Homo sapiens: one gene and its partner. The protein of the gene in region 2 purifies or fractionates together with the protein of the main gene of each other region. This does not show direct contact. Each region holds a gene or a part of one and is shown on either strand. Other genes may lie near its edges.

What was found. The genes of interacting proteins can lie anywhere in the genome.
Region 1: the proteins of AP1S3 (region 2) and VAMP4 purify together in Homo sapiens (pull-down; one study listed by IntAct). This does not show direct contact.

What each region holds. Positions count from the first base shown.
Region 1 is NC_000001.11:171,731,401-171,736,690, forward strand, and holds part of VAMP4 (vesicle-associated membrane protein 4), read right to left. Parts: intron 1-5,290. UniProt on the Homo sapiens protein: Involved in the pathway that functions to remove an inhibitor (probably synaptotagmin-4) of calcium-triggered exocytosis during the maturation of secretory granules.
Region 2 is NC_000002.12:223,763,778-223,769,067, forward strand, and holds part of AP1S3 (AP-1 complex subunit sigma-3), read right to left. Parts: intron 1,574-5,290; coding exon 1,436-1,573; intron 1-1,435. UniProt on the Homo sapiens protein: Subunit of clathrin-associated adaptor protein complex 1 that plays a role in protein sorting in the late-Golgi/trans-Golgi network (TGN) and/or endosomes.

The DNA.
Region 1 (5,290 bases), on a different chromosome or scaffold from region 2:
AAACTTAAAGTATAATAATAATAATAAAAAAAACAGGATTGCAACAAATGCTATGCAGAGAATTAAAACAGTGATGGGACAGAAAGTGATGGGGTGACTACATGAGATTAGGCTGTCATAAAAAATCACTCTGAAGAGGTGAAATTTAAGCTGAGATCCAAATAACAAAGAGCCAGCCAAAGATCAGGGTGAAGAGCATTCATTGCTGCAGGACTAGATGGCTGGCACAGAAAAAGTCCAAGTGTATTAGTTATTCACAATAAATGTGACTGGTTTGAATGTCCCTATTTAATAACAAAAACTATATGTGATTAGGGTTCAAAAAAATTCTAGCCAATATCTGTTTGCAAGAAATTCACCTAAAACAAATACCAAATAAAGGATGGGGAAAAGCAGGGGTAGAAAAGAAACATCAGCAAATTCTAACAAAAAGAATGTTACAGTTAGCAATATAAAGAGGAATTTTAGGACAAAGTATTAAACAATCAAATAAGATGATTTTACAATAATAAAATATACAATCCATCAAGAAGATTTAATAGCAACGAATGTTTAAATACCTAATAATATAGCTTAAAGTATCTTACAGAAGCTGCGCAAATTATGAGAAACAGTTACATCAAAATCATAGGGAGGATTTAACATACCCTTCAGAGATGGAGAAGCCAAACACACAAAAAAATCTAGAACTTTGAAACTAGACAGCAAATTTTATTTTATTTTCCTTTATGGGTAAGCCACAAAGGACATTTAATAAATTCCAAAAAATAGAAATTACACAAGTCATATTCTCTGACCATAATGCGATGGAAAAAGGAAGTTTTAAAATACTCTTCTCAGCTGGGTGCAGTGGCTCACACCTGTAATCCCAGCACTTTGGGAGGCCAAAGTGGGGGGATCACTTGAGCCCAGGAGTTCAAGACCAGCACTGGCAACATAGCAAGACCGTGTCTCTATGGGAAAAAAAAAAAAAAAAAAAAAATTTAATTAGCCAGGCATGGTGGCTCATGCCTGTAGTCCTAGCTATTCAGCAGGCTGATATGGGAGGATCTTTTAAGCCCAGGAATTTGAGGTTAGAGTGAGCTATGATCATGCCACTGCACTCCAACCTGGGTGACAAAAGGAGACCCTGTAGCAAAAAACCTCACAAAAAACAAAAAACATCCTTCTCATTAACTTTTATGTTAAATGTAAATAAAGGTGATTAGACTATTTTGAAATGAAAGACACTGGGAAGATCACAGGTCAAAATCTGAAGAGTATGGCCACAGCAGTACTTAAAGGAAAATGGGACCTTAGACATATTTTGTTATGAAATCACAAAGATTGAAAATATATAAATAGTTAACTCTTAAGATGGGTAAGTTATTCCTAAACAACACACAACTCCAGAAGTCTGAAAGAAAAAGATTAACATATTTGATTATATAAAAATTTAAAACTTGAACATAAGACATCAAAAACAAGGTTAAAAAACAAGCAACAGACTGGGAAAAAACATCTGCAGTATCCTTTAAGACAAAAGACCTGATGTCTGTATTATATAAAAAGCTTTGACAAACTAGTAAGAAAAAGAGACATTATAGAAAAACAAAGAATAGAAATAGATAATTCCCAATAGAAGAAATGGCCAATGACCACATGAAATGTTCAAAACCAATTAATATTCAAGGAAATGCATTAGGTCATTTTTTAAATAAATATTTCTTGAGTAATATTCTAGCTAACAAGTAACAGACAAGCATTACATTTATAATATAATGTATTTGGTTTATGGCCGGGCATGGTGGCTCACGCCTGTAACCCTGGCACTTTGGGAAGATGAGGAGGGAGGATCACTTGAGCCCCGGAGTTCGAAACCAGCCTGGGCAATACGGTGAAACCCCATCTCTACAAAAAAAAAAAAAAAAAAAAAAAAAATTAGGCGTGGTGGTGTATGCCTGTAATACCAGCTACTCTGAAGGCTACTTGGGGGGATTGCTTGAGCCCAGGAGGAGGCTGCAGAACCCTGATCGTGCCACTGCATTCCAGCCTGGGTGACAAAGCCAGACCCTGTCTCAAAATAATAATGATAATAGTAATAGTAATAATTTATTTGGTTTAGAGGATAATGATACTAAAGATATGTTTACTATAATTGTACACTGAGAAACACACATGAAAACCAATGCTTTTTCATATATTAATTGAATAAACACAAGTGCTAGGGATACAGTGTCAAAAAAGAATAATAGGACACAATGAGATAATATTTCATACCCACTAGGCAGATAATATTAAGTGTTGGTGAGGATGTGGAGAAATTAGAATCATCATACATTGCCGGTGAGAATGTAAAAATTGTACAACCACTTTGGAAAACAGCTGGGCAGTTCTTCAGAAGGCTGAACAGAGAGTTACTACAATACTCAGCAATTCTACCTTTAGGTATACACCAAAGAGAAATAAAAACATGCTCAAACAAAAACTGGTATGCTAATGCTCATAGCAGTAGTATTTAAAATAGCCAAAAGTAGAAAAAAACCCAAACATCTATGAACTGATAAATGGGCAAACCAAATGTGTTATATCAATATAAGGGAATATTATTAGCAATAAAAAGGAATGAAGATCTCCCAGCACTTTGGGAGGCCGAGGTGGGTGAATCACCTGAGGTCAGGAGTTCGAGACTAGCCTGGCCAACATGGTGGAACCCCATCTCTACTAAAAATACAAAAATTAGCTGGGCGTGGTGGTGTACGCCTGTAATCCCAGCTACTTGGGAGGCTGAGGCACGAAAATCACTTGAACCCAGGAGGTGGAGGTTGCAGTGAGCCGAGATCGCACCATTGGACTCCAGCCTGGGCAACAGAGGGAGACTCCGTCTCAAAAAAAAAAAAAAAAAAAAATGAAGCACTGATATGCACTATAACGTTGAGGAATCTTAAAAACATTATGCTAAGTCAAAGAAGCCAGTCACAAAAGGCTATATGTTATATGATTCCATTTACAGAAAACGTCCAGAATAGACAAATCTATAGGAGTGCAGTTGCTTAGAGGCTGAGGGGATAAAGAAAATGGGAGATGACTGCAAAAGGGCACAGCATTTCTTTTTGGGCTAATGAAAATATCCTAAAATTGATTGTGGTGATTGTTGCACAACTCTGTGAATATAATAAAACTCACTGAATTGTACACTTTAAGTGGGTGAATTGTATGGTACGTGACTTTTATCTCAATAAAGCTATTACCAAAAAAGTATAATAGGAAAGAGGAACAAAACTTTTAAAAGATTTTAAAAGTAATTTATATATTATTCTAACCAATCAGTTATCAAACTTCATAATATAATAAACATCAAAAAGGAGTTCTCTTGAAACAGTCAATTTTATTCAGTTCTGGTGTCTAATATACTAATAATCAATGAAGAATATAAGGAGAAAGTGATACAATTACAGTCTCAGCAGTGGAATTTATTGAGACAATACATTTTAAATTTAAAAATGTATTCATAAAGCTTATTTATTTGTATTATTTTTAATTTAAGGTTTACTATTGTTTTTCTTGAAGTAATTTTTCCTGCCCTTGTTATTAGGGTGGGCTTTATGTACTATTTAATCTGATTTCCACACATATTATTAAACTGGTATTTAATATCTACAAATAATAATTTTGTCACTATTTTCTCAGGATTATGACCAACATGCCATGAAACTGTGATCCTAGTATATCACGCCTGGACTTGATTTTTAAAAAGCAATCATATTCAAGTGACTGTGTCCTTAACAGTGATTCCATTAAGTGAACAACAAATTTACGTTCAGCAGTGATTGTGAGAAAGAAACACAGGGGAACTTAGGAAATATAAATAGTTTCAGTTTAAAATCATGTAAAAATAAAACTATAAAATTAATGGGATTTGCATCAATTAAAAATTATTAAATAATATACTCTTGCATACTATACATTGAATTTGGCTACAACCTTCTCTGCTTTACATACATTTTTCAAAATTGACATAGATTGTATGAATTACAAACAAGTTCCGAGAGGTGATTTTACTACATACATTTCCATACTTCAGTCTTCATCTTACACAAAGGCAGATGTGACTTAGGGGCTCTCTGTCCAGGACTGAGGTATTTACCTGACATATCTCAGATATCAGTCAATCAACTGTCAGCATTTATTGATCATCTTCCAGGATATTAATGCTTTGCAAGCATCTCTGGGTAAGTGACTAAAGATTTCCTTGGGGCAATAGGAAAGAGGCTCAGATTCTTCTAACCGATGATTTAAAAAATATTTCAGCATGCTTTGTGCACGCTGATCACTGAATATTCATCAGGAGCTTTCAGTCAGCTTTTACTGGATGCATATCAAGTCTGTGTTGTTTTACACTGGGTTCCTTTATAGGTTCACAATTGGTATCATTTACTTTAACAAATTGACATTTATTCTCTGAATGGGTTTAGTATTTCGCCAAACCTTCTGCTTTGTAAAGACATGCTTTTTTTTTCTTTCTGAGATGGAATTTCACTCTGTCACCCAAGCTGGAGTGCAATGGCACAATCTCGGCTCACTGCAACCTCTGCCTCCCAGATTCAAGCAATTCTCCTGCCTCAGCCTCCCAGGTAGCTGGGATTACAGGTGTGCACCACCGCACCTGGCTAATTTTTGTACTTCTGCTAGAGATGGGGTTTCACTATGTTGGCCAGACTGGTCTTGAATTCCTGACCTCAAGTGATCTGCCCGCCTCGGCCTCCCAAAGTGCTGGGATTACAGGCGCGAGCCACCACGCCTGGCCAAGACATGCTTTTGATAGTAAATCTTCAGTGTATGGAATTCCAGCACAGGTATATCAAATTTTCTGAATCACTTTTTCTTGGAGGTTTATCTTGAAAGATATTACATTAAAGAAAGAGACCCTGGATTATCCCTGAGTGATTTCTCAATCCCTGATCATCCTCTGCCTTCTCTCGGCCAGAGCCTTCCGGGTTCACCCAGACTTGGTATATTTCAAGGCATTTCTCAATTCCTTGCATGGGGAACTAGCTCAAGCAGACACTAAGAGTTTCACCATGGCATGGAGGAAAAGATAGGTGACCAAAATGGTTGAAACTGCACCAAATGCTAGTAAGCAGTTGAAATTATGGCAAAGAAGGAGTAACTGGATTTGGCAACATGGAAATCATTGGTGACTCCTTAAAGTTTATTAGTAAAAGCTTGCTAGCAATTAATCTATTGGTGGATTCTATTTCCCCATTAAAAAACAAAACAAAACAAAACAAAACAAAACAAAACAAAACAA
Region 2 (5,290 bases):
CTCTGGCTGGGCAGGAGCAAGTAATCAGCCTAAAGATGCACCAAAACAGTTGCTGGGAATTCACACCTAATGGTGTTTTGTTAATTTAATCACCCTCTTCCAAATAGCAGGAAAAAAGTAGCTTTAATGCCAGTTTTACTTATTTATTTATTTATTTATTTTGAGATGGAGTCTCGCTCTGTCACCCAGGTGGTGCTGTGGTGCTATCTCAGCTCACTGCAACCTCCGCCTCCCGGGTTCCAGTGGTTCTACTGCCTCAGCCTCCCAAGTAGCTGGGATTACAGGCACACATCCCCATGCCCGGCTAATTTTTGTGTTGTTAGTAGAGATGGGGTTTCACCACATTGGCCAGGCTGGTCTTGAACTCCTAGCCTCAAGTGATCTGCCTGCCTCGGCCTCCCAAAGTGCTGGGATTACAGGAGTGAGCCACCGCATCCGGCCAAATGCTGATTTTAAAAAGGTGCTTTACAATGCTCTGGATCCTCTTGACCTACTTATTTGAAAATAGGAAGATGGGAAGACCCACTGAGGCTGTGGGAAGAAGAATCTAGGGGTGGCAGGTCTGGGATGGAACCCAGCCCCTCAGAGCATCTCATTTGGGAGGGCAGAGGTCAGTGGGGTGAAGTGCTCTTTCTCACAGTGTCCTGGGAGGAATGGAGGGGCTGATGTAGGTAAGTTCCCTGAGGAGGTATGATGCAAATCTGTGCGGCTTCTAAAAGAACATTCCCACTTTATTTTATATAGAAATCCCAGAGTCCAGGGCAGTACAAAATGGATGCTTCTGGGCCCATTTATACCTTGGCAAGCAAACCACAGTGTTCCCAATTTCTTTATGCAAGCAGGAGCACACATACAGCCTTCCCAAAAGGTGTAAGAAATTTTAATTAAAATGATAAATGCCATGCTCAATAATAAAGCTTTAATATCTCTGGCAAACAAAATAACAATGTACTGCTATTCTCCTTTCCCAGGGAAGCATAGGTATTTTAATGAAAGTCTTTTTATACATCTCATAAAATTATTCTTGAAAAGAATAGCACTAAGTATTTGATACCTTTTTGGCAGTGAAGGACTCTTGCACTCCAAAGCTCATCCAAATGTGAAGAGCAAAGACTCTAAAGCCCAATTGCCTGGGTTCAAATCTCTATGCCACACTTCCTAGTGGAATAGAGGAATTCCACACTTCCTGTGTGAAATTGAGCAGGTCATTTAACCTCTTGGTGTCTCAGTTTACTCATCTGTAAAGTGGGAGTAACAATACCACCTACTTTTTCGAGTTGTTGTGAGGATTAAATAAGCTAATACATATAAATAGTTTAGAAACTGTACCCAGCACAGAGTAAGTACTCAGTAAGTCTGGTTAATATTATAATTATTAACACCATCATCATCATCATCATCATCTTTCTCCCATGGTTTGGGAAACCGTACTGACCTCCTGTAACATATCAGAGTCTTCAATGGCTTTGACAGCAATTTTCTTGGATGTTTCCTGAATTTCCCCACCTATTATAAACTCGTCCAGGATGAAATAAGCCTTTTCAAAATTAAAGATAATATCCAGCTCACAGACCTGGTGGGACAAAAACAAACGTTTTGATAAACTTGCAGTTGTATCAGGGGAAACATCTGCCCGAATCTCGAGCTTTTTCAGTTTGCACTCATGTGGCGTACCAAAAATAAAAATATCAGATGGCATTTTAAGGACAGAAAAAAAGAACAGGGAATGTCAGGCCTTTAATAAATGGAATGCTACATTCTATTAAAGCAAAGCACATCCTTAGATAATAATGTTTTGTGTTACAACAGGAAATTTGAGGCTCAGTAAGGGAATGAGGCCACTCGGCTCCTCTTCCTATCTGCACCAAGAAAACTGAGCCCCAGCTGCATTCCAGGAAGGAGGGCAGAGCTTTGTTTCTCCTGCTCTCTGCTCTGTAAATCTTGGCTTCTAGCTTTAGAACTCTCTCAGAAACTAATTCTTCAGAGGAAAATTAGCTCAACTGTGCTAATTTTTCTCAAAATTATGTCACAGCCAGTGGTTCTCAAACTCATTCCAAAGGCTCATTAAAACACACTGGTGCTACAGCCCACCCCCAGAGTTTATGACTCAGGAGGTCTAGATGAGAACTGAGAATCTGCACTTTTAACAGGTTCCCAGGTGATGCTGAGGCCGCCGGACTGCGGGATTTCACATCCAGAATCCCTGGCGCGGATCAAAGCAGAGTCTGATAGATTTTGGTGTTTATTTAAGTGTAGCAAGTATGGCAAGATCACTCCCATCATCCAAATAAAGCTCATTTCCCGTACTCACACACCATCCTTGCTGTCTTACTCCCTACTTATTCCTCTACTCACTGACACCTTCTCTTTCCATACCATACCCCACCCACCCAACTGAAGCTGTTCTCCTGAAACTCTGCTCATTGAGTCTCCAGACTGCATAAATGTCTTCTTTTGAGAAGCGTCTGTTCATATCCTTCGCCCACTTTTTGATGGGGTTGTTTTTTTTCTTGTACATTTGTTTAAGTTCTTTGTAGATTCTGGATATTAGCCCTTTGTCAGATGGATAGATTGCAAAAGTTTTCTCCCATTCTGTTGGTTGCCTGTTCACTCTGATGATACTTTCTTTTGCTGTGCAGAAGCTCTTTAGTTTAATTGGATCCCATTTGTCTATTTTAGCTTTTGTCACTAGTCATTAGAAAAATGCAAATCAAAAACTACAATGAGATACCATCTCATGCCAGTTAGAATGGCGATCATTAAAAAGTCAGGAAACAACAGATGCTGGAGAGGATGTGGAGAAATAGGAATGCTTTTACACTGTTGGTGGGAGTGTAAATTAGTTCAACCATTGTGGAAGACAGTGTGGTGATTCCTCAAGGATCTAGAGCCAGAAATACCATTTGACCCGGCAATCCCATTACTGGGTATATACCAAAGGATTATAAATCATTCTACTATAAAGACACATGCACATGTATGTTTGTTGCAGCACTGTTCACAGTAGCAAAGACTTGGAACCAACCCAAATGCCCATCAATGATAGACTGGATAAATAAAATGTGGGACATATACACCATGGAATACTATGCAGCCATAAAAAAAGATGAGTTCATGTCCTTTGCAGGGACACAGATGAAGATGGAAACCATCATTCTCAGCAAACTACTACAAGAATAGAAAACCAAACACGGCATGTTCTCACTCATAAGTAGGAGTTGAACAATGAGAACACATGGACACAGGGAGGGGAACATCACACACCGGAGTGTGTTGGGGGGTGGGGGGCAAAATACCTAATGTAGATGGCAGGTTGATGAGTGCAGCAAACCACCATGGCACATAAATACCTATGTAACAAACCTGCACATTCTGTGCATGTATCCCAGAACTTAAAGTGTAATTTTAGAAAAAGGGAGGAGAAAAAAAAAAGAAAGAAAGTCTCCAGACCTCCCCAACGTTTACCTCTCAGCCACATGTGGTACTCTTCACCAATCTCTCTTCCTTGAAAATCTCTTCTCCCTTGCTCCCCTGATTTTGGCAATACCACTTAATGCCTGTTTTTCTTGTCTATCTCTGATAATTCCTTCTCAGACTCCTTGGATAATTTATCTCCCTCCTACCCTGCATTTGTTTAAGAAGTATTTAAGGTGTGCCTAGCACATATCAGTCAACAGAACAGACAAACATCTCTACTGCATGTTGCTTATATTCTAGCCATCCATCTTCTGCTTGAATATTCATGTTCCTCAAGGGAGCCTCTTCTCTTTGCAAAATGCATATTCTCCTGGACAATCTTGCTGACTCTCTACAGCTGTGTCTAGCATGCAGGTAGCTCAACAAACCTAGATGACTAGCCCTGATCTCCCTCTGGGCCACTAGTCCAATATTCTCACCCACTAACTAGACATCTTTACCTACCTATTCCTCAATCCATGTCACTATGTCCCAAGCTGATATCAAGATTATTCTTTTTCCTTTAGTCCCTATTTTGCTTAGTAGTTGCAATCTCTTTCTAATTTCTCCATCTAATTCATTCTAGAGTTCAACCAACATACTTCCCCTTCCCCACTCATTCCTCTCCCTCCTTGATCTCATCCCTCTGGATTTGGTCATCAGTTTCTACTGATTCTATTGTCTAAATAAGTCCCTACCCTTCCTGTCTTCTCTGCTTTCACAGCTGCTGCTCAGGCCTACAGCACTTCTCCATCAGGCCACTGCAATGACCTTCCAGGTGGCGGTTGTGCCTGCTCAGGGCCATTGACCACTAATGCTTAGCTAAAATGCTGATCTTGTGCCTCTCCAGTGTAAGGTCTTCAGGACAAAGGCATATAGGAATCTTTACCAGCCTGGGCCCTGCTGTCTGATTTCCCGTGCCAGTTCTCATCCATGCATCTGACACACATGCCACAAACTCACAATGTCACGGTGTTTTGTGCCTTTGCTTTCTGCACATTCCAACAATTCTTGAATTGTGTCCCCAAATGTCCTTTTCTTTATTCTCCTGCTGGCAAAACCAAGCTCATTTTTTCAAGGCCAAATTCAAAAGTCAGGCATGTGGCGATTCCCCACATCCCCTTTTCCCCATTCAGATTTCACATCACTTCCTGTGGGTTCTCACTTACATCTTCTGTGCACTAGTTTCTGCTTATTGATTACTAATCACTCCCCCGTACTGTGAGTTCAGGGCAGAAACTTTGTCTTCATTATCTTTATATCCCTGGTTTCTGGCACATTGTAAGACACAAAAAATGCTTGTAAGATAAATGAATGAGCAAGTTTAAGTAGAGGCCTTGTCTGGGCATGGTGGCTCACGTCTGTAATCCCAGCACTTTGGGAGGCTGAGGCAGGCAGATCACTTGAGGTCAAGAGTTCAAGACCAGCCTGGCCAACATGGTGAAACCTTGTCTTTACTAAAAATACAAAAATTAGCCAGGCATGATGGTGCACGACTGTAATCCCAGCTACTCAGGAAGGTGAGGCAGAAGAATCACTTGAACCCAGGAGGCAGAGGTTGCAGTGAGCCAAAATCATGCCACTGCACTCCAGCCTGGGTGACAGAGCAAGACTCCTTCTCAAAAAATAAAAATAAATAAATATAGGCCTTGTTTCTAATATGCTAGAGATTAATGGCATCCCAGATACAATTCTATGGTTGTACTGAATGCTATAACTTTGCATGAAATAGATGTCAATATTTTAGCAAATTCCTCCATATACTTACAAGTTAGGTCAATAAACTAGCAAACTTCACAAGGAACATGGTTTAAGTCAACAGATCCAAATGAAT